Linked DNA regions of Homo sapiens: all the other regions are reported to be linked to region 3. Evidence: microRNA targets listed by miRTarBase, many of them from high-throughput screens and not tested one by one. Region 3 holds a microRNA gene; each other region holds the end of a gene's coding sequence.
Evidence for each region. Region 3 holds the annotated microRNA hsa-miR-6831-5p (UAGGUAGAGUGUGAGGAGGAGGUC, at 1,408-1,431, shown strand). A microRNA usually pairs through its seed, bases 2 to 8, with sites in the 3' UTR of a target mRNA and lowers its output. Matches are read on the target gene's strand: a 7mer-m8 pairs with bases 2 to 8, a 7mer-A1 pairs with bases 2 to 7 and ends in A, and an 8mer does both.

Region 1 (3,094 bases), not on the chromosome of region 3:
AAAAACAAAAAGTGAATAAAGCAGCCTTACCGACAATTTTTTTTATAGAAAAGTGCCTTAACTGATGAAAGCTGATTATTTTAAGGTGTACATACTAGTTTATTCATAAAATACAACCTATTCTGAAAATAAATTTGTACTTTGCACAAACGCATTGTATGCTTTTTTAAAACTAAGGTGTGTCCACCTGTGCCCCCAGCTTCTCGGGACGCCGAGGCAGTACGATCGCTTGAGCCCAGGAACTTGAGTTCAGCCTGGGTAACATAGCAAGACGCAGTTTCTTAAAAAATAATAAAATAATAAGAGAGTGAAAGAGAGTGACAGCGTTCTCTGATAGTCCATTTTCAGCTTTGGTTTGGTATTTTTAATAAGATGATTGCTAACAGCCTTTTGTGTTGTGTCACATGCCTGCATAGGTTGGGTTTCAGTAACACCTAATTTTAAGGACAGACTGCATCTCCGAGGCTATACACCTGAAGGAACAGTTTTGACCGTCCGGCCCCCTCTCTTGCCATATATTGTTAACATCAAAGGACAGCGCATCAAGAAAAGTGTGGCCTATAAAACCAAGAAGCCTCCTTCCCTTATGTACAACGTGAGGAAGAAGAAAGGAAAGATAAATGTATGAGACCGACCTTGTTCACTCCAGATATTAACTGTATTGAACACAACAAAATACATTGAATTTGTATTAAACATATAACGCATAAATAAAGCTCCCATTCTTACCCTTTTTTTCTTTTTTCTTTTTTTTTTTTTCTGAGACTGAGCCCTGCTCTGTTGCCCAGGTTGGAGTGCAGTGGCACGATCTTGGCTCACTGTAACCTCTACCTCCCAGGTTCAAGCAATCCTCCTGCCTCAGCCCCCCAGTAGCTGGGATTACAGGCATGCGCCACTATGCCCAGCTAAGTTTTGTATTTTTAGTAGAGATGGGGTTTCACCATGTTGGCCAGGCTGGTCTCGAACTCCTGACCTCAGGTGATCCATCCGCCTCAGCCTCCCAAAGTGCTGGGAATACAGGCGTGAGCCGCCGCGGCCAGCCTCACCCTTTTCAAAGCTCTTAACAGTTAACTTTTTTAAACTATTCAAGACTTATGTTCATAATGTATTCAGCTTATAAAAAGTTTTTTTTTTTGTATAGTATGTATATGGTATGTATCTGTGACCCACATATATATAAAATTGGAAGCCTGCTATATTCAAGTTTCTCCCACTACTGTTGTTTCTTTTTTTTTTTTTTTTTTTTTTTTTGAGACAGGGTCTTGCTCTGTCACCCAGGCTGAAGTACAGTGGTGCAATCTCGGCTCACTGCAAATTCCACCTCCTGGATTCAAGCAATTCTCATGCCTCAGCTTCCTGAGTAGCTAGGATAACAGGTATGCACCACCACCCCTGGCTAATTTTTGTATTTTTAGTAGAGACAAGTTCTCACCATGTTGTCCACCCACCTCGGTCTCCTAAAGTTCTGGGATTACAAGTGTGAGCCACCATGCCCCGCCTCACTACTGTTTTTTATATTGAGACCAGATGTCATTTCTCTTATTTGGAGTTAGCAGTCAGTATATGAAAAAATGGCAGGAAAATTAATTTCTCCAAAATTCATTGGCTTAAATAAGATAGAAGTGAGTAGGTGGCTCTGCTCCAAGGATCCAGCTGGTGGAACATTCCATGGCCATCTGTAGGTCTAAGGTGGCTGCCCAAGTTGTCATCCTTTTCCAGCAAGGGTAAAAAGGGGGAAAGTATGGAGAGCAAGCAACTTCCCTATTTAAAAGAAGGGAAGAAAAGCTGGATGTTGCACACATCAGTTTACATAGTCCACAGGTCAAGTCACATGGCCACACCCACCCATAAGGAAGCTGGGAAATGGAGGAGGAAATGGGAACCATTTGGGGTTTTTATTAAGGAAAAATGGGGAGAATGGATACTAGAGAACAAGTAGAAATTTACCTTACACAATTTGACAATGCCTGAAAATCTTAGATAAAAAAGGATTCAAGGCCAGATGTAGTGGCTCACACCTGTAATCCCAGCACTTTGGGAAGCCAAGGCAGGAGAATCGCTTGAGGCCAGGAGTTCAAGATCAGCCTGGTCAACATAGTGAGACCCCATCTCTATTATTTTTTTTAATAAAAATGAATTGTCGGCTGGACACAGTGGCTCAACGCCTGTAATCCCAGCACTCTGGGAGGCCAAGGCAAGTGGATCACCTGAGGTCAGGAGTTAGAGACTAGCCTGGACAACATGGTGAAACCCCATCTCTACTAAAAACACAAAAATTAGCCAGGCGTGGTGGGCACCTGTAATCCCAGCTACTCGGGAGGCTGAGGCAGGAGAATTGCACGAACCCAGGAGAAGGAAGTTGCAGTGAGCCGAGATCACACCACTGCACTCCAGCCTGGGCAACAAGAGCAAAACTTCATCCCAAAAAAACTAAATAAATAAAGATTTTTAAAAAGCTATGTATTTCTAGCAACTGAGGTCTATTCTGCAACTGAGAGGACACTTTAACCATTTTATTTACATTTCATCTTTATATGACTGAATAACATTACATCAATCAGAAGTCTTTATTGGCCAGGAGCAGTGGCTCATGCCTGTAATCCCAACATTTTGGGATGCCAAGGCAGGAGGATTGCTTGAGTTTAGGAGTTCAAGACCAGCCTGGGCAACACAGCAAGACCTCATCTCTACTAAAACCCAAAAAAATTAGCCAGGTGTGGCGCTGTGTGCCTGTAATCTCAGCTACTGGAGAGGCTGAGTCAGGAGGATCACTTGAGCCTGGGATATGGAGGCTGCAGTGAGCTATGATCACATTACTGCACTCCAGCCTGGGCAACAGAGCGAGACCCTGTCTGAAAAAAGGAAAAAAGAAAAAGTCTACACCTTTTGTTATTCCTAGCTGAGTAAGTAGTACCACAGCTGTGTCATGAAGAATTGGCAAGTCAAGTCCCAGATCCTAATGTTGAAATAAATGCTGGTAAGATAAGCTAGGCTGAAACGCAGTTAGAGCCATGAAATTCCTGAGAGGACCATGTTCTGTCCCAACATATGGGAGCCCCCATGTATTTCACACTCTCCTGTCTTCTCCCCACTC
Region 2 (3,094 bases), not on the chromosome of region 3:
GCGCGGTGGCTCACACCTGTAATCCCAGCACTTTGGGAGCCTGAGACAGGTGGATCGTCTGAGATCAGGAGTTCGAGACCAGCCTGACCAACATGGTGAAACCCCGTCTCTACTAAAAATACAAAAATTAGCTGGATGTGGTGGTGGGCACCTGTAATCCCAGCTATTCGGGAAGCTGAGGCAGAGGAATCATCGCTTGAACCTGGGAGGTAGAGGTTGCAGTGAGCCGAGATCACACCATTGCATTCCAGCCTGGGTGACAAGAGCAAAACTCCGTCTCAAAAAGAAAAAAAAAAAAAGTTAGTAACCAGGTTGTGTCCCACAGAGCTTTACTGGGGGCCAAACACTGTCAACCCCTCCTCAGGTCCCAGTGAGTTTGTGCACCTGGCCTTCTGACAGTAAGCGGTGAGCAGGGCATCCCCCACCAGGACCCCATACTTTCCTCCCATGGGTTTCCTATGGAATGTTGCTGCTTCAACTTCTGAGAGCCTCTTGCTGGGGGGCCCCATCCCTAGCCCTTGCCTCCCTGTGCTGCTTTACCTTCTTTTTGGGAGGATAACTGCCCTCTGTTTTCAGCACCCCAATAAGAAAGAAAAAGTCATGACCAGAAGTCAGTGTCAGTGATTGCTGATGTGTGGAAACATCTGATGAATGAAGAGTTTGGGTAAAAAATAAAGGGAACTGATGAAAACCACTTGTGTGTGAAGCCTATATAGTGGTGTGTGCCTGTAGTCCCAGCTACTCGGGAAGCTGAAGTGGGAGGACTGCTTGAGCACAGGAGTTGGACATCAGCCTTGAAAAGATAGTGAGACTCAATCTAGAAAACAGAAACAACACTTCTGACTGGTGTCTGCCTGTGGGTTTCTGACTCTGCTCCCAAACTTATGGTGAGAACTTCTTTGCTAACTTGAGAGTCTGCAAGAGTGAAGTTTTTGCCAAATTTTGGCCCTTAGTTCCTCTAAAACACTAATGGAAACGTAACCCCATGCTTGTTAAGACCCTCCTTCTGCCCTACCATGATTACCAGATCTCTGCTGAGGTTGCAAGATGAGGTGATCTTGCTGGAAACAAGGACAAATGGGGGAAGAAAATAGGGCTGGACAGGCCCAAGCATTCAGAGGCCAGGGCTGGGGGTAGGTAGGGGCCTGCTTCATTTGAGAACAACTATGAAGGACAATAGGGTTTCAACAGGGGAGAGAGTAGCGGTATTCAAAGCAAAGCAAAAGATGTAAGTGAAAGATGTAAGCGGGCCGGTGCGATGGGTCACGCCTATAATCCCCGTACTTTGGGAGGCCAAGGCAGGAGGATCACCGGAACTGAGGTGTTTGAGACCTGCTTGAGCAACATAGTAGGACCCTGTCTCTACCAAAAAAAAAAAAAAAAATTAAATTAGCTGGGCATGGTGGCTACTGTAGTTTCAGCTACTCAGGAGGCTGAGGCAGGAGGATCACTTGAGCCTGGGAGGTCAAGGCTACAGTGAGCCTGGGTAACAGAGTGAGACTGTCTCAAAAAAAAAAAAAAGGAGAAAAAGAAAGATGTAAGTGTGTAAGTGAAGCCTGGAGATGCAGACACCTGCGAATGGGCTGCTGAGGGGCACTTGGCTATGGCTGGGGCTCAGGAAAAGTGGAGCTCAGGGAAGAGAGGCTAGAACAGGGCTCAAAGGGCCTTGAAGGCCAGGCCTGTCAGGGTCCATCACCTCCTCAGGCTGGAGAAGTCAGTGCAAGCTGCAGTGATGGGGTCCTGAGGCCCCAGTACTTCTGCCCATCCTCTCCCACTGTCTCCCAAGATCATACAGGGAAGCCTGTTTCCAGATGCCTGTGATTTATTTCCAAAGGAGAGCTACAGCACATAGGAAAATACACATGGCTTTTCAGTCTACATTTTTACAGAGAAAAGAGATTCGGTCATTGGCTTTCTCAGTGCCATCATCCTGTTCCATGAGGCTCCAGGATGGATGGCCTGTCTCCAAGATCCCGCTTTCAAAGCAGCAGCTTGGCCAAGGCCTCTGGGGGTAGGAGTGAAGGGCAGCGACCCCCATGTGCGGGTGGAGGGGAGGACATGAGCAGCACTCACTGCAAAGCTAAGGCAAAGAATAGAGCTGGTGGGAGATGCCTCCCCTCACCCCAGGGGCATGGCTTGCTGAGGCCCAGGATACAGACCAGGAGGGGTGGGGATGGGGGTCTGGTCCAGCCTGGAGCGGCAGCAGGACTCTGAGTGTACACATGGGTGTGGGGTGAAGAGGGGGGCATGCTGAAGAGGAAGCCTACCAGGGTATAGAGGGGCTTTAGCTTGCATATTCCCCCTGCCCCAGAACAGCTCCCAGACCATGGTCCCCAATCCTACACTTGGCCCCTCTCTTAAGTTCTACTTCAGGTGGGGGTCCTGCTCAGGTTCCTTCTGCCACCTTATCCCCTCCCACTGTCAGTGCAAAACATTCTTAGGGCCAAGCCCCTGAGTCCCCTGCACACTGACTGGAGCTGCAGGGAAGGGAGGACAGCAAGGTGCTAGCTGGGAGCCTCCCCCAGCACCAGGAATTCCTTGCACATCTCTCGGACAATCATGCGGTCCATCTGGCACTGGGGTGAGGTCTCCTCCTCATTCAGGATGCGTCGCAGTATGGCCTGCAGGTCGGGTAGCCGGTGGCGGTGCTGCAGGTAGGGTGTGGTGCGGACTATAGCATGCATCAGGGAGAGGTACTCCATGCGCAGCTGTGGGAAGAGCAGGCCAGCTCAGGGACCCCAGGGAGGTACTGCAACCACCACTGGACAGGGACAGGACCCCACTGTCCCACAGACCCCAGGGCTGTGGACCTGAACATCAGGGCTGCATCCCCAGCACCCACAATATACCTGGCACAGAATTGGTCTTCAATAGTTTTTGAGTAAGCGAATAAACGAATCATCCCAGCCACAGACAGCCCCAAGTATGTGGCCTGCCCAGGGAAGTCCTGCCCATCCTTTGAAGCTGGGTCTCTCAAGGTGCCTCTGTCTATCAGTCAGAGGCCCTCTGCTTCTCACCCTATCCTCTCTTACCCTGGAAGACCTCGTGCACATTCACAGCTTCAAATAGTGAACCACTCTCATACCTCTTACCT
Region 3 (3,091 bases):
GAGCTAGGGAATGGGGTAAAGTGAGGAGTGTTTAAGGGTGAATGTTTTTGAGTCTGTGCTAGTAACGGGTTCGTGATGGTTCCCAGGAGGGGACATCTGGGGGATCCACGGCTCCTCCCGCCTCGCCGAATGCTCTCCCCACACCACTCCACACTGTTGAGGCAGTTGACAGGAGCCGCAGAAGAAACAAGGGACATCCTCACTCCTGAGCCGCTCCAGAGTCGCTTCTCCCCGGAACTAAAAAGGTCAAGGAGAGTGAAGACCACGCCCGGCTGCAGATCACCCCCACGGCCACTCACCTTGTCATCCGCCATCTTCCCCGCCGAACTTGTTGCGCAGGCGCATCCCCGCCTCCCTCGTGCCGACTGCCCCGGCCATCTTTACGGAGGGCGAAGGCACTTCCGGAGCATTTTTGGAAAGGGGGAGGTGCTTTCCTAGTGGCCAAGTACGCCTCTCTCAGATACTTCCACGTGACCCCCTCCCGTCGAGTCTCAGGCTGCGTGTGAGCGCACTCACGACCGGGGCGCGATGATCTCACTCGTGCGCGAGTGCGCGCGGCGCATGTTCGGCGTGTCGGTCTTCAGGCGCCTGATGAGTTCATAGTTGGGCGGTGGTGTCAGCGGTTTCGCTGGCGTTCGTGGGCCTCCCCCGGACCCACACACGGAAACACGCAACCATTCGGGGATCCAGACGCCCGTTTACACGCACCACCCCTGGGCGGGCTGTGCGGCTCAGGCCCTCCCCCGGGACCGGCCCGTGTCCCGCCCCGTGTCCCGCCCCGTATTTGTGCGGCGCCAGCTGGCCCCGCAGCCTGCGGCGCAGAGAGGCTGGGCTTGCAGGCGCAGTAGCTCCAGAGGTCGCGCTGGGCTGAGAGTGCGGGCCGGCAGAGGCTGGCGGGGAGCAGCCGGGGTTATGCTGGGCAAGGATTACATGCTGGCCATCATTCTGGTCAACTGCGATGGTGTGCACGGAGGGGCCCGGTGGGAAGACCAGGAGCTGAGGGAGGACGAGGGAATCCGAAAGGCTACTCTGGGGCTCAAAGACGGTGGGGGATACCTCTCTGTGTAGGGACCAGGGGGCGAATGAACCCGGTCTTTACATGTGATGTCTTCAAGATTGAGGAGCCTGGATCTTCAGCCTAAGAACTGACCCATTTTGGGGATGGAGAGGGGATTATGACAGCATGTTATTCTGAACTCACAAATCATATGCTCCCTCCTCTCTAATCCGGTGTTCCTGTAGATGACTTGTGGGGGGACCACAGTCTGGAGGTGGAGGCTGGCCTGCCTCCTGGCTGGAGGAAGATCCACGATGCTGCAGGTACTTACTACTGGCATGTACCCAGCGGTAGCACCCAGTGGCAGCGCCCAACCTGGGAACTAGGAGATGCAGAGGACCCAGGCACGGTAGGTAGAGTGTGAGGAGGAGGTCTGAGCCCATGTGTGGACCTAGGTCTGCTGTTAAACTGACTAACTCCCACTCTACAGGGAACGGAGGGGATCTGGGGACTGCGGCCCCCCAAAGGGAGATCCTTCTCCAGCCTGGAGAGTTCACTGGACCGGAGGTAACGGGTGGCCCAGGCAAAATGAAAGGCTTGGGGTTCCATGGTGTTCAAAAATGCAGCTGGACCCATGGTCTGCTTTCCAGCCCAGGTTCTGGATTCTGTCACATGTTTTGGGTTCTGTTACGTTCTTGGCTCTGTCCCAGGTTCTTAACTGTCAGTATTTTGAGTTTTATCCCTTGTTCTAAGCTCTTGTTTGTAGCTACATGTTTTTCATATTCTTGGTCCTAACCTATCATGTTCTAGACCTTGGCCATTAAGTCCTCTGTTCTAGGGTCTCTTGTCCCACTTTGGGGTTCTGGTCCACATATTGGACCCTGTTCTATTTTGTGACTTTTATTTTTTATTTTTTGAGATGGAGTCTCACTCTGTCATCCAGGCTGGAGTGCAGTGGCACGATCTTGGCTCACTGCAACCTCCGCCTCCCAGGTTCAAGTCATTCTCCTGCCTCAGCCTCCTGAGTAGCTGAAACTACAGGCACATGCCACCATGCCCAGCTAATGTTTGTATTTTTAGTAGATATGGGGTTTCACCATGTTGGCCAGGATGGTCTCGATATCCTGACCTCATGATCCACCCGTCTCAGCCTCCCAAAGTGTTGGGATTACAGGCGTGAGCCACCACTGCACCTAGCCTTGTGACTTTTATTCTATGTCCTGTGTCTGGGTCCTATGTCCTGAATTTTCCCTCAAATTCTGAGTCACACTTTATGTTACGTTAATATGTCCTGGGCTCTACCCTGCTCTGGTTTTATATTTCTGGTGCTATATTCTGGGTCTTGCCCCTCATCCTGTGCTTATCAAGTTGTCTAGGCCTCACCAGTGTCCCTACTGTAGGAAATGTGGTCCTCTTAACAGCTCTGCTCTGTTTCAGTAACTCTCTGTCCTGGTATGGTGGGGAATCCTACATCCAGAGCATGGAGCCAGGGGCTAAGGTAGTGACTTGGGCCTGAGGGCATTGGGAGGTCCCAAGGGAAAGACAAGGGTGGGATTGGACTGAACAGAGGTGATCAAGGGTGAAGACAGGGAGTATGTATTGTGGCACCTGCCACCCTACTCCATCCTTATTAATTCCTGTCCCTTCCCCCAACCTGTCAGTGCTTTGCAGTCCGCTCTCTGGGCTGGGTAGAGGTACCTGAAGAGGACCTGGCACCGGGGAAGAGCAGTATTGCAGTCAATAACTGTATCCAGCAGCTGGCCCAGACCCGCAGCCGGAGCCAGCCTCCAGATGGTGCCTGGGGTGAGGTGAGTTGGCTGGGCCCTTTAATGGTTTGGGCCCAGGGCCCAGCAGAGGTAGCTGTCCCTGAATTTCCTATTTCTCATGGCAATGACCTTTATCTGAGCTCTGGGCTGACCTCTGTCCTTGGCAGGGCCAGAACATGCTGATGATCCTGAAGAAGGATGCCATGAGCCTAGTGAATCCCCTGGACCACAGTCTGATCCACTGCCAGCCTCTGGTGCACATCCGTGTGTGGGGCGTGGGGAGCTCCAAGGGCCGGTGAGGATGCCTACATCCCCCAAGCAAGAGCTA
Region 4 (3,094 bases), not on the chromosome of region 3:
ACTATCTGTGATCTTTGCTAACTCACTAATTCATAAAGTGGAAATACTAATAATAACAATTATGAATTCATCAACAGAATAGAGGATTATTTCGAGGTTTTAATGAAATAATATGTGTGAAAACACTTGTAAACTAGAAACTGCTGTACAATAATCATTACTTTCCAAGATGTCATTTCCTTTTTCTGTCTTCAGAAACGATCTTCAAGACACAGAAATAAGTCCAAGACAGAATCGCCGCACAAGAGCCGCTGAAAGTGCTGAGATTGAACCAAGAAACAAGCGTAATAGGAATTAATGTGGGCTTTTGCTGACTTTTCAAATGCATTGATTAGAATACCGTACTTTTGGTTGCCACAGATAGATTTTCTATTTATAAATGCCCAAGGAAAGATGCTAAATTCTAAATATTACGGTTAGCTGATATTCATTCTTTTCTGCTTTTCCAGAGGGGAAAAATGTTACAAAATATCCTTACTTGGTCAGTTGCCTCCTGCCTCTAAAACATCTCTCTCTAAAAATACTGACATTTCACACAGGTACCAGCTTTGCAGAGGAGGTAGACTCTTTGGCACTTTGGCACAGGGATTTGGTTTGGTTTGGTTTGGTTTGATAATTAAATTTCAGAATGTCCTTAGGCCATTCTCCTTCTCTTCCATGGAGAATCCAGCCTCACAAAAGGATTCTTTCAACTTCTTTATTGCAAGAAACAGTTGAGTTAAATGTTTGTTTTTGGAAAGGCGGGATGTCAGTTCACATCCTTGGTGTGTGTAAGTACCGATGCACGCCACCACCATGCCTGTGTTACAGCAGCTCCATGATGGTTGTTGCCCGAGGTTAATGTAGTTGTTTGTTAGACCTGTGTCTTACACATTTCTCAGAGTAGGATATTAGTATTATAATTTAAAGCTACGACAGTCACAAAGTCACAATAACTTAGAAACATTGCGCATATTCTTCTGAAATAGCACTTAAAAATGATTAGTGTCAGTATTTTTTCACTTGGGTCAATCAAATCTGTAACACTGAATCCAAGCTATTAAACAAAAAGTATGCAATGAATGAATTTTGTAAATGAATAGAGAGTATCAGTTTACAATAATGTTCTTAAAACAGTATCCTCTGGATAGTTGAGTATGGGTTAGAAATCATTGAAATGGATTGGTCAGAAATTGCTATCTGTGTAAAATGTCTACCAGTAGCCAGATGCTTCCAGAGTTCTTAATGCCTCTCTGGCATTTCAGAGCCAGCATCCCCCAACTCCCACCCCTCTGCCATCACCCAACCCAAACACATCAGCTTTCAAATGAGATGATAGTAAATGCGGCAATGTTAAGACAAGAAATTTATGATTTGCCAGATTCAACATTTATGACCTCCCCTTCCAAAGACTGTCTCCGTTGACCTTGTCTTTTTGGTATGCCTTGGGGTTTCTGATAATGTGTGGAGTCTCATTATGGCTGAGAGTTTAGTGTTTTCACAGTGAAGTGCAGACATTTGATTTCTTTATGAGTTCCCTGTGTTAGAAATGGCTATAGAAAAATTTGTCATAATAATTTCATTTGCATGAAATCCTGAGGGGTGCATTAAGGAAACTAAAAGCACCACTTACCAAATCTATCGGCAGAACTGATGTGAGGTAAGTGAGCATGTCAAACAAAATAGGAGCTCACATGGATATATTTATGTCACTGAGTTGTCAGAAATTATGTCAAAATGAAAACTGTTTGTTTCATGACAAATTATATAGTCTATAAATTAAACTGGAAGTAATTATTACTTTAATTGCAGCAAAAGGAGTTTGTGAGGGAGCGGTGAGACCCAAGATTGGGAAAGTAGGCACATGAGTTCATTCAGCAAATATTTGGTTATCTATGTCTGTCACTGTGCTGACACTGGGAATACAAAGGTGGCCAAAGATCATCTAGAACAATGGTTCCCAGTGGGGTGGGCAGAAAGATTTTGCCCCCCAGGAGACAGCTGGCAATGTGTGGAGACACTTTTGGAGGTGGAGGGTGGTGAGGGGTACTACCAGTATCAATGGGTGGAGGCCAGGGATGAGGCTAAACACCCAACCCTCATGGATTAGTTTGCCAGGGCTGCCGTCACAAGATACTGCAGACGGGGAAGCTTACACAACAGAAATGTGTATTCTCAGAATTCTGGAGGCTGGAAGTCCAAGATCAGTAGGGTTTCTTCTTCGGCCTCTCTCCTTGGCTTCCACTCATGGTGTCCTTGCATGGTCTTTTCTCTGTGTGCACATGACTGTGCAGGACTGGTGTCCCGATTTCTTGTAGGGACAGCAGTCATTGGATCAGGGCCCATGCGTATGGCCTCATTTTACTTCAGTTACCTCTTTTTTAGATAGAGGGCCCTATCTCTAAATACTGTCACATTCTGAGATACCGGCAGTTAAGACTTCCAACATATTTAGTGGTAGGGGTTAAGGGGCACGCTTTAGACTACAACACTCCACAGTAAAGAATTATCCAGTCTAACATGTCAGTTGTGCCAAGACTGAGAAACCTGTAATGTAAAGGAACTCCCAAGTCTACCTGAAAAGTAAGGTCTAAAGAGCATTTATTGAGCACTATCTGTTAGCACTTAGCATATGTTTAATATTCATACATTGAAAGAAATGTATGTTCATATCCATCTGACAAAGATTAAGGAACTTAGAGTAAGTAATAGATCCAAAATTGAAACTGATAAACTTCTGGTTCTAAAATTCACCTTTTAGTGAAAATACAGTTTCTCACCAAACTTACAGTAATTCAGAGTTATTAACTCTTTCTACCTCCTCACTCCCCTCAAAGTTATAACATCTCCCATCAACATCAGCTCAGAATGGCAGTGATGCTTATGGTTTGTGGGGGTGCAGGTGAGCTGCTGGATGCACTTTAGATGGCCTAGTATGCCAGGCCGTCCTTTCATCCTCTACTCTCGTCTTTCTTTTTCGACCTCATGTTGAGGATTACTGGTCTAGTTGAAAAAAGAATTCATACACATAAGACCATGTATATAATAGAGGGAGGTATGCCTTTAAAAACAAAATTACATGGTAAAGACTGATGTGTCAACAGGGATAGACAAC
Region 5 (3,094 bases), not on the chromosome of region 3:
TGGACGGCGCCTGGCTGCTGGCCGGCATCATCAGCTGGGGCGAGGGCTGTGCCGAGCGCAACAGGCCCGGGGTCTACATCAGCCTCTCTGCGCACCGCTCCTGGGTGGAGAAGATCGTGCAAGGGGTGCAGCTCCGCGGGCGCGCTCAGGGGGGTGGGGCCCTCAGGGCACCGAGCCAGGGCTCTGGGGCCGCCGCGCGCTCCTAGGGCGCAGCGGGACGCGGGGCTCGGATCTGAAAGGCGGCCAGATCCACATCTGGATCTGGATCTGCGGCGGCCTCGGGCGGTTTCCCCCGCCGTAAATAGGCTCATCTACCTCTACCTCTGGGGGCCCGGACGGCTGCTGCGGAAAGGAAACCCCCTCCCCGACCCGCCCGACGGCCTCAGGCCCCGCCTCCAAGGCATCAGGCCCCGCCCAACGGCCTCATGTCCCCGCCCCCACGACTTCCGGCCCCGCCCCGGGCCCCAGCGCTTTTGTGTATATAAATGTTAATGATTTTTATAGGTATTTGTAACCCTGCCCACATATCTTATTTATTCCTCCAATTTCAATAAATTATTTATTCTCCAGTGTCTGTTTTTTCCCATGCCTGGGGACACTGGAAAGCAAGGGTCCAGAGGGGGTTAAGGTTGGGGGTTGGATGTTGGCCTAGCCAGAGACTGCGTGGTCCTGTCCACCTGGGGCTGACGCCGACCCCTGCTTCCACCTAGGGTTCAGCCTTCTGACCCCTGACCTTTGCAGCCCTGGGCCACCCTCCCTTTTATCCCTCTCCCACCAGGGCAGGGCAGCCGATGGAGAAGGGGCAGAGTCTAGAGGCCTGGAAGACCCAGCTCTGGTGCTTCAGGAAGGGGAGGAGAGGGGTTGGGACTCCGAAACTGTGCGTTGGATTCCAAAACAGGGCTGGTGAGGAGAAACCCAGCCCCATGAGAGTGAGGTGCTACCTCTCTACCCCAGGCCAAGCCCCCCCTTCTGCTCTCTCCACCACAGGCCTCAGGGGCCTCAGGATGGCAGAGCTGCGGGTGGTGGTGGAGGGAGGCGCCCAGGTGAGCCCCATCAGAGCCCCGTCTCCGTGGGCTGGCTGTTGGGTCCTCATCCCCAGGAGCCGATTTGTCGAGCGACTCACTGCCAAAGCTCTAAACTCCCCAGTTTGGAAGAAGCAGCGGACAGTGGCAGGGCAGGCCTCTGGCTCTGCGGGCATCAGGGGTTGAGTCACCCCACCTGTCCCCATGGGGGGTGGCAGTTTGATCCCAAGCCGAGAGGAGGGGTCTGTCTGGCTTCCTGCCTGCTTAGGGATGCAGGCTAATACTCTGTTTCCCCACATCCACTCATCTGCAGCCGGCTCTGGCCTCCTGGACCCAGGGCCCTCATCCCAGCCTGCCTGGATGCAGGCCTTCCCCAGCATCCCTGTAACAAATAGGTATGTGGTTAGAGGGCTGTGCCGCTGGCTTTGGTGAGAATATGACCCTCTTAGTAGCCGATACAGAAGAGATTCACCCAAAGCCAGGTCAAGAAAACAACCAGGTCCAATTGTGCTGAAGAAGAGACACTATGACTCTGCCATGAAATATCTCCAACCAGAAATGATCAAGGGCATGGCCAAGTTTGGAGAAGGCAATACAGGTTTAGTTTTTTGGGTTTTTTTTTTTTTGGTGTCCTTTGTTGTAAGTGCAGTTCTAAAATATTTGTTCATACTGTTTTGATTGCCTTATTTATTTATTTACTTTTTTCAAGGTAGGGCTTGCTTTGTTGCCCAGGCTGGAGTGCAGTGGTGTGACCCTGGCTCACTGCAGCCTCTACCTCCCAGTCTCAAGTGATCCTCCCACCTCAGCCTCCCGAGTAGCTGGACTGCAGACGTGTGCCACCATGCCTGGCTAATTTTTAAATTTTTTACAGACGGGGTTTCACCATGTTGCCCAAGCTGGTCTCCAACTCCTGGCCTCAAGCAATCCACCTGCCTTGGCCTCCCAAAGTGCTGAGCTTACAGGTGTGAGTCACTGGCCCAGCCTGATCACTTTTATATGATTATCAGATCACAGTAAATGCTATGGGGTTGTTTTTTTTGTTTTTGTTTTTGTTTTGTTTTTTTTTTGAGATGGAGTCTCGCTCTGTCACCCAGGCTGGAGTGCAGTGGCGCGATCTCGGCTCACTGCAACCTCCATCTCCTGGGTTCAAGCGATTCTCCTGCTTCAGCCTCCCGAGTAGCTGGGACTACAGGTGCCCGCCACCACTCCCGGCTAATTTCTTTTTGTATTTTTAGTAGAGATGGGCTTTCAGTGTGTTAGACAGGATGGTCTCAATCTCCTGACCTCGTGATCCACCCGCCTCAGCCTCTCAAAGTGCTGGGATTACAGGCGTGAGCCACCGCACCTGGCCTAGGGTTGTTTTTATTAAAACAACCAACCAACCAACCAGAACTGCCCTGCTGTTTGTCAGAGTGACCAGCCCAGGGAGTGCTGGGGTGACTCAGGTGTGCCAGGTAGCAGAGCCAACCGCCACGGCCTCTCCCTTTGTGACCTGGTCCCCTCTTGATGTCACCCTATGCTCTGGCTTCTCTTATCTCCTCTGTGGGCTTTAGCCCCTCCCCTCTCCAGCCCTCCTTTGCTGGCCTCTCTCCCTCACTCGGTTTCCCCCTCTGCCCCTGCTCCTCGACTGCCCCCTTCTGTCTCTGAGTGCCCCCTCCCTCATTTCTCTACCTCCCTCCCCTGCTCCTGTCCTGGAGTCTCTCCCTTCAGTGTCTCCTTCTGCCCTGTCAGCTCTGCCCCACTGCTCTGTGCCGCCAGGCCAGCCCTCTCCTGCCCCTCGTCTTCCTCTTTTTCCTCTCCTCTCCCTGCTCCTGTCCTGTTTCTCCTCCTTGTCAACTCTCGTTCTCCGACCCTCAGTTTTGTGGGTGCCTGTCCCTTTACCCCATCCCTCCACAGGCCCTGGTGCATGTGCATCTACTCCCTCTAATAGGGTCCTGACAGAAGCCCCTGAGAATGTAGCGCCTAGAGGGGGGCGGAGAAACCACCCTGTAAGTGGCAGGATTCACCAGGGAGGGTGGGGATTTCTCTGAGTTGGGAGGTCGCCTCCAGGCAGCCTTGAGCTTAAGGGAGCC
Region 6 (3,000 bases), not on the chromosome of region 3:
CTTTTGCTCTGTGTATCAGGTACTATTTGTTTTCCCTCATCATGAATTTGAGCCGTGATGCTTATGAGATTCGCCTACTGATGGAGCAAGAGTCTTCTGCTTGTAGCCGGCGACTGAAAGGTTCTGGAGGAGGAGTCCCAGGAGGAAGTGAAACTGGGGGACTTGGGGGACCAGGGACTCCAGGAGGAGGTCTGCCCCAACTGGCTCTGAAACTTCGGCTGCAAGTCCTGCTCCTGGCTCGAGTCCTTAGAGGTCATCCCCCACTTCTGCTAGACGTGGTCAGAAATGCCTGTGATCTCTTCATTCCTCTGGACAAACTAGGCCTCTGGCGCTGTGGCCCTGGGATTGTGGGGCTTTGTGGCCTCGTGTCCTCCATCCTGTCTATTCTCACCCTAATCTATCCCTGGCTACGACTCAAGCCCTGACCTTCCGGTACAGGATAAGGAGGGGACCTGAATTGGTGAGATGGAATCTTAGATCGTCCCCCATGTGCCAGCCTCATTCGAATTCTACTCTTTGGTTAAAGTTAGAAATTCAGAGATTTAGGGGTGGAGGAAGAGCTTTGGGGAAGATGAGGTAAGGAAAGATGACTCGTGAAGTTAATAGGATGTCTCTAATTTCTAGATGTGCCTGAGCTTCTGTTCTTTTCCTCTTTCTTTGTGTCTCTCTTGAATATATTTACTTTGTGTCTCTTAACTCTGTTTAAGGTTCTGTGTCTATGCATCTCTCTCTTTCTTTTTTCAACCTTCTCATTCTCCTATCCAGGGATTTAATCAGCAGAATTACTTTTTGATAGGGGAGGTATAAGGTTTGGCCTGTAAGGTTCTAACTGCCTTCTTTTTTCTCACAGAGGTGGCTTATGGCAGATTTTTCCTCCTTCAAACTCCAAACATAATTTTTAAGACTATGTGCCAGTGGACTCTTCCCTTATATCTCTGCACCACAAGTTGTTGGATGTTTCCTCTTCCTCCCTTATGTCTACCTCACCAACCTCGCTCATCATTTGGCCCTTATCCTTCCTTGTACACCTACCTTCAGATTTCTGCTTACACTTTGATTTCAGAGCTTTATTCCCCAGTCTGTTCTTACTCCTTTGTCGCTTATCCAGAATGATGCTATGTGTAGCATCTTGCTGTAAATCCTGTACAATGATTCTGTGTAAATAGCTGTGGCCTATGCCAATAATGAAGAGCAAGCCTTTCAGGTAAGCAAATTAAAGTTCAGTTTGCTCATCGACATTTGGTCTGGTCCCTCATTTTTTGGTAATTTGAGGCCCCTATTCCTGTCACTGTGGTTTGGGTTTTTCTCGGGATTAGCCACTAACATCACCCACATTATTTTTCTTGAGCACCTACAGTATGTAAAGCAACATACTTAGTGGGCATCCAAAAATCTAAGAAGCTCCACACTCCCAACTTTAAGAAGTTTATAACCTAGCTGAGGAGTTGGGGTGGCAGAGGAGTGGTCTAATACTAAAGTTATTGTCCTGGCTCCACAAAGCACATCTCATACCAGTTCAGATATAATCCCTCTAAGAAGCAGAATGCCATATGACAGCATAGGCTAAGAGCCAAGGACAGAACCAAGTGGAGTGGGGCTGGTAAGGATTTGGAGCTGTGTCTTCACAAGTTGAGACTCCCCTGGGTGGGTAGGGAAATGATACCACTGCTATCAGCTCTTTCATTTTCCATATTCCAGGTTGAGATAAATAAGGTTAGGAAGTGAATCTATCGGCCAGGCGTGGTGGCTCACGCCGGTAATCCCAGCACTTTGGGAGGCCGAGGCAGGTGGATCTCTTAAGGTCAGGAGTTCAAGACCAGCCTGGCCAACATGGTGAAACCCTGCCTCTACTAAAAATAAAAAATTAGCCAGGCATGGTGGCATGTGCCTGTAGTCCCAGCTACCTGGGAGGCTGAGGCATGAGAAATGCTTGAACGTGGGAGACAGAGGTTGCAGTGAGCCAAGATTGTGCCACTGCACTCCAGCCTGGGTGACAGAGTGAGACTCTGCCTTAAAAAAGAAAAAAAAAAATCTGAATCTATCTCCTATCTCCCAGCTGGGTGCAGTGGCTCACTTTGGGAGGCTGAGGTGGGAGGATTCCTTGAGTTCAGGAGTTCAAGACCAGCCTGGGTAACATAGTGAAACCCTGTCTGTATTCTCAATATAAATAATTTGTCTAAAACTTTTAAACAAAAGTTTAAGATTCTTTTCTTATAAAAAAGAATCCATCTCCCACTCCTGTTCCAAATTTGAGGAAAGCATTATTGACCTGGCAACAATAAACAGTAGAAAAAAAGAAATAGCAGAAATGGGCAAAAAAATATGTTCTCTGGATATAGAGATGAGGCCTCCAGGGGGCAGCACCAAGGCAGAGAAATAGACTAAGATCGCTCAGTGTTTTCCTTGGTCTGGGGCTCCCCACAGTTCCCCACCATCACTCCTCCCATTCCTTCCAACTTTATTTTTAGCTGCCATTGGGAGGGGGCAGGATGGGAGGGAAAGTGAAGAAAACAGAAAAGGAGAGGGACAGAGGCCAGAGGACTTCTCATACTGGACAGAAACCGATCAGGCATGGAACTCCCCTTCGTCACTCACCTGTTCTTGCCCCTGGTGTTCCTGACAGGTGAGGGAAGTTAACTTCTTGGTTTCTGGTGGGGATGGAAGATACATAGATTGTTTGGAATTGGGACCATTATAGTTAAAATTCTTTGGGATTTAGGTTAGGAAGCGAACACTGGTTGTACATTTCTTGTATGTGTGTCTGTGTCCTTGTGCATTTTTATGCCCTCACATATGACTGTTTGAATATTGAGACTGGCAGGGGCTAAAGCTGCCTAGGACCTTGTGTAAGATTTGTATCTAATAATTATATAATATATAATGTATAATTATATATTATATATAATATACATATAATATATAACAATTATATATTATATATAATATACATATAATATATAACATAATTATATATTATATATAATATACATATAATATGTA
Region 7 (3,094 bases), not on the chromosome of region 3:
GTATGCTTCTTTTCTTTTTCTCTCTTTTCAACTAAGTCACCGTCAATTTATTAAGATGGCCATAACTATTCAAAACCTATGCTGAGTTCCTCAAGGCAGGGTCACATAGTGATGAAGGTTGGGATGGGGCTACGGAAGAAACCAGAACAACTCTAGTTTATTTAAAACCTGTATTTACTGCCCACTTCCCCTTAGACTTGACCATATGACCCCTCGCTCCCATTCTAAGCATAGGGGCAGGCTTTATTTTTACAATGGTAATAGATATCACTTGAGGTTTTATCAAAGAGTTGCGGCGGGTGGTGAAAGTTCACAACCAGATTCAGGTTTTGTTTGTGCCAGATTCTAATTTTACATGTTTCTTTTGCCAAAGGGTGATTTTTTTAAAATAACATTTGTTTTCTCTTATCTTGCTTTATTAGGTCGGAGACCATGAGAAACAGCGTCAAATCATCTTTTCATGATCCCAAGCTGAAAGGCAAGCCCTCCAGAGAGCGTTATGTGACCCACAACCGAGCACATTGGTGACAGACCTTCGGGGCCTGTCTGAAGCCATAGCCTCCACGGAGAGCCCTGTGGCCGACTCTGCACTCTCCACCCTGGCTGGGATCAGAGCAGGAGCATCCTCTGCTGGTTCCTGACTGGCAAAGGACCAGCGTCCTCGTTCAAAACATTCCAAGAAAGGTTAAGGAGTTCCCCCAACCATCTTCACTGGCTTCCATCAGTGGTAACTGCTTTGGTCTCTTCTTTCATCTGGGGATGACAATGGACCTCTCAGCAGAAACACACAGTCACATTCGAATTCGGGTGGCATCCTCCGGAGAGAGAGAGAGGAAGGAGATTCCACACAGGGGTGGAGTTTCTGACGAAGGTCCTAAGGGAGTGTTTGTGTCTGACTCAGGCGCCTGGCACATTTCAGGGAGAAACTCCAAAGTCCACACAAAGATTTTCTAAGGAATGCACAAATTGAAAACACACTCAAAAGACAAACATGCAAGTAAAGAAAAAAAAAAGAAAGACTTTTGTTTAAATTTGTAAAATGCAAAACTGAATGAAACTGTTACTACCATAAATCAGGATATGTTTCATGAATATGAGTCTACCTCACCTATATTGCACTCTGGCAGAAGTATTTCCCACATTTAATTATTGCCTCCCCAAACTCTTCCCACCCCTGCTGCCCCTTCCTCCATCCCCCATACTAAATCCTAGCCTCGTAGAAGTCTGGTCTAATGTGTCAGCAGTAGATATAATATTTTCATGGTAATCTACTAGCTCTGATCCATAAGAAAAAAAAGATCATTAAATCAGGAGATTCCCTGTCCTTGATTTTTGGAGACACAATGGTATAGGGTTGTTTATGAAATATATTGAAAAGTAAGTGTTTGTTACGCTTTAAAGCAGTAAAATTATTTTCCTTTATATAACCGGCTAATGAAAGAGGTTGGATTGAATTTTGATGTACTTATTTTTTTATAGATATTTATATTCAAACAATTTATTCCTTATATTTACCATGTTAAATATCTGTTTGGGCAGGCCATATTGGTCTATGTATTTTTAAAATATGTATTTCTAAATGAAATTGAGAACATGCTTTGTTTTGCCTGTCAAGGTAATGACTTTAGAAAATAAATATTTTTTTCCTTACTGTACTGATTTGGAATCATTACTGAAATTTGTAAGGAGTGGGCCAACGTGATTAAGTACCATAAAGGCAAATAAATGGTTAAAGACGGTTTCATAGAAAAGTGACAATTAGAAGGATATTACGGTCTAAGCTAATTATATAAAGAATTTTATCTGTATCTTAAATGTTGATTTTATACTGCATTGAGGTAAAAACACAAAACAAAAAAGCAGCTTTAACACCTCTGTCTTCTCTTGGGTAGCAGCCTCCTGCTTCTCCTTCACCTGAAAAATTCTCCAGGGACTTCATCCATTAACTTGGCTCAGGCTATTAGGCAGGATTCAACAGTTTAAGCTGATGGTGTGGTGAGAGATGCTTTATCCATATTAATGGACTGAAGGAAGTAATGGCAAGACAACCCCCCAAAACATACCTAATTATACAAAGTTATATACCAAAGTTGCTTTTAGAAAATGGCCTGCTCAGAGCAAGTAGAGGTTTCCAATGGCTTTTTATTTTCTCACATTAAGGATGTTGTTTCTTAAGGAACATTGAGTACCATTGCTTCTTCGTGATAGCCTAGGACTGGCCGTGTGCCCATGGAGGTAGAGACACCAGGTACTGATTCTAGGTCCTCTGCCACAAAGCACCACTTCCTCTCCACTTTGCCTTGGCTGGCCTTGTCAGCTCACTGGAGAGCACAGTATTGCAATTGCAGTATTGCAAATGGTCACTACTAACTGAATTCTCTAAGAGCTTGATTAGCCCTCGAGAATCTTCCTTGCCCTTCTCTAATAGTGTCTGAAGGAATTCCTGGCATTTAACAAATATTAGCATGTAGTGATCACTGTCGTCCTAACAGTGACACATCAGAAGGATTTCAAATAACAGTCTTCAGGCATGCGTAATCAATGTCCTGTGCAGAGTCTCCGTCCTCATTGATCCTCATTTTTCTCTTTAAGGCACAGTCCAATGTCTTTGGGGAATTGTTTATAAAGCTTACTTTATCCATAAACTGTTTCTCAGTGCGTGACTCTGAAGAAAATTTTGAAGTTTTGCCCATGTTGACAAGGTGCTTGGTCTGAACTTGGCCAGTATTTAATCTTGAGCAAACGATTCAATTTCCTTCTATCGTGAGTTTTCTCATCTATGAAACAAGGGAGTTGAGGGGAGTTTCTTTCATACCTCTGAGAAAGAGTTTGAGATTACATAAAGAAGTTGAAGTGGCATGAAAAAAAATAAAGATCTGAGCTTAGAAGACATGGATCTAATACATTTAAGAGGAAGTCAGAATCAGAGAAGCCACTGAACAAAACAGTCCAAAGGACAGCATAGTAAGTCAGATTGATGAGTTTTGGTTGGGTTTTTCATCAGTCAAACCCTTGAGCCCCCCTTTCCCATGCTTCCTGCTTCAGTATCCAGTAGGAAAAATGAAAGGGATGATGTAGACACTCTAGGGCATGA

Region 1: miRTarBase lists NOA1 as a target of hsa-miR-6831-5p. The part of its 3' UTR that is shown has no 7-base or 8-base seed match.
Region 2: the mRNA of NCKIPSD is a reported target of hsa-miR-6831-5p. The part of its 3' UTR that is shown has no 7-base or 8-base seed match.
Region 4: the mRNA of RAD18 is a reported target of hsa-miR-6831-5p. Seed matches in the 3' UTR shown: 7mer-m8 at 2,551-2,557 and 7mer-m8 at 2,793-2,799.
Region 5: the mRNA of PRSS22 is a reported target of hsa-miR-6831-5p. Seed matches in the 3' UTR shown: 7mer-m8 at 311-317 and 7mer-m8 at 317-323.
Region 6: miRTarBase lists PEX11B as a target of hsa-miR-6831-5p. Seed matches in the 3' UTR shown: 7mer-m8 at 978-984.
Region 7: the mRNA of EDN1 is a reported target of hsa-miR-6831-5p. Seed matches in the 3' UTR shown: 7mer-m8 at 1,099-1,105.

The regions. Positions count from the first base shown.
Region 1 is chr4:56,960,984-56,964,077 of GRCh38, reverse strand. It overlaps NOA1 (nitric oxide associated 1), which reads left to right. Exons shown (of 7, transcript NM_032313.4): 7 at 417-728. The coding sequence ends at 628. Among named protein-coding and RNA genes, the nearest start is that of NOA1, 15 kb to the left of the region's middle.
Region 2 is chr3:48,672,040-48,675,133 of GRCh38, forward strand. It overlaps NCKIPSD (NCK interacting protein with SH3 domain), which reads right to left. Exons shown (of 13, transcript NM_016453.4): 13 at 1,805-2,708. The coding sequence ends at 2,505. Among named protein-coding and RNA genes, the nearest start is that of LINC02585, 9.8 kb to the left of the region's middle.
Region 3 is chr5:140,562,067-140,565,157 of GRCh38, reverse strand. It overlaps MIR6831 (microRNA 6831), which reads left to right and starts at 1,407; the gene lies at 1,407-1,487. It overlaps APBB3 (amyloid beta precursor protein binding family B member 3), which reads left to right and starts at 560. Exons shown (of 13, transcript NM_133173.3): 1 at 560-961; 2 at 1,243-1,406; 3 at 1,488-1,564; 4 at 2,435-2,495; 5 at 2,659-2,805; 6 at 2,931-3,058. The coding sequence starts at 913. It overlaps SLC35A4 (solute carrier family 35 member A4), which reads right to left and starts at 330. Exons shown (of 3, transcript NM_080670.4): 1 at 300-330. It overlaps LOC131768270 (SLC35A4 upstream open reading frame protein), which reads right to left and starts at 330. Exons shown (of 3, transcript NM_001394034.2): 1 at 300-330. The coding sequence starts at 314. RefSeq lists enhancers at 253-372, 128-734, 1,343-1,402 and a silencer at 693-872.
Region 4 is chr3:8,878,561-8,881,654 of GRCh38, reverse strand. It overlaps RAD18 (RAD18 E3 ubiquitin protein ligase), which reads left to right. Exons shown (of 13, transcript NM_020165.4): 13 at 196-3,094. The coding sequence ends at 298. Among named protein-coding and RNA genes, the nearest start is that of RAD18, 83 kb to the left of the region's middle.
Region 5 is chr16:2,850,205-2,853,298 of GRCh38, reverse strand. PRSS22 (serine protease 22) reads left to right here. Exons shown (of 6, transcript NM_022119.4): 6 at 1-569. The coding sequence ends at 206. Among named protein-coding and RNA genes, the nearest start is that of PRSS22, 6.4 kb to the left of the region's middle. RefSeq lists an enhancer at 574-1,073.
Region 6 is chr1:145,909,586-145,912,585 of GRCh38, reverse strand. PEX11B (peroxisomal biogenesis factor 11 beta) reads left to right here. Exons shown (of 4, transcript NM_003846.3): 4 at 20-1,236. The coding sequence ends at 425. It overlaps ITGA10 (integrin subunit alpha 10), which reads left to right and starts at 2,536. Exons shown (of 30, transcript NM_003637.5): 1 at 2,536-2,623. The coding sequence starts at 2,572.
Region 7 is chr6:12,295,540-12,298,633 of GRCh38, forward strand. EDN1 (endothelin 1) reads left to right here. Exons shown (of 5, transcript NM_001955.5): 5 at 423-1,655. The coding sequence ends at 528. Among named protein-coding and RNA genes, the nearest start is that of EDN1, 6.7 kb to the left of the region's middle.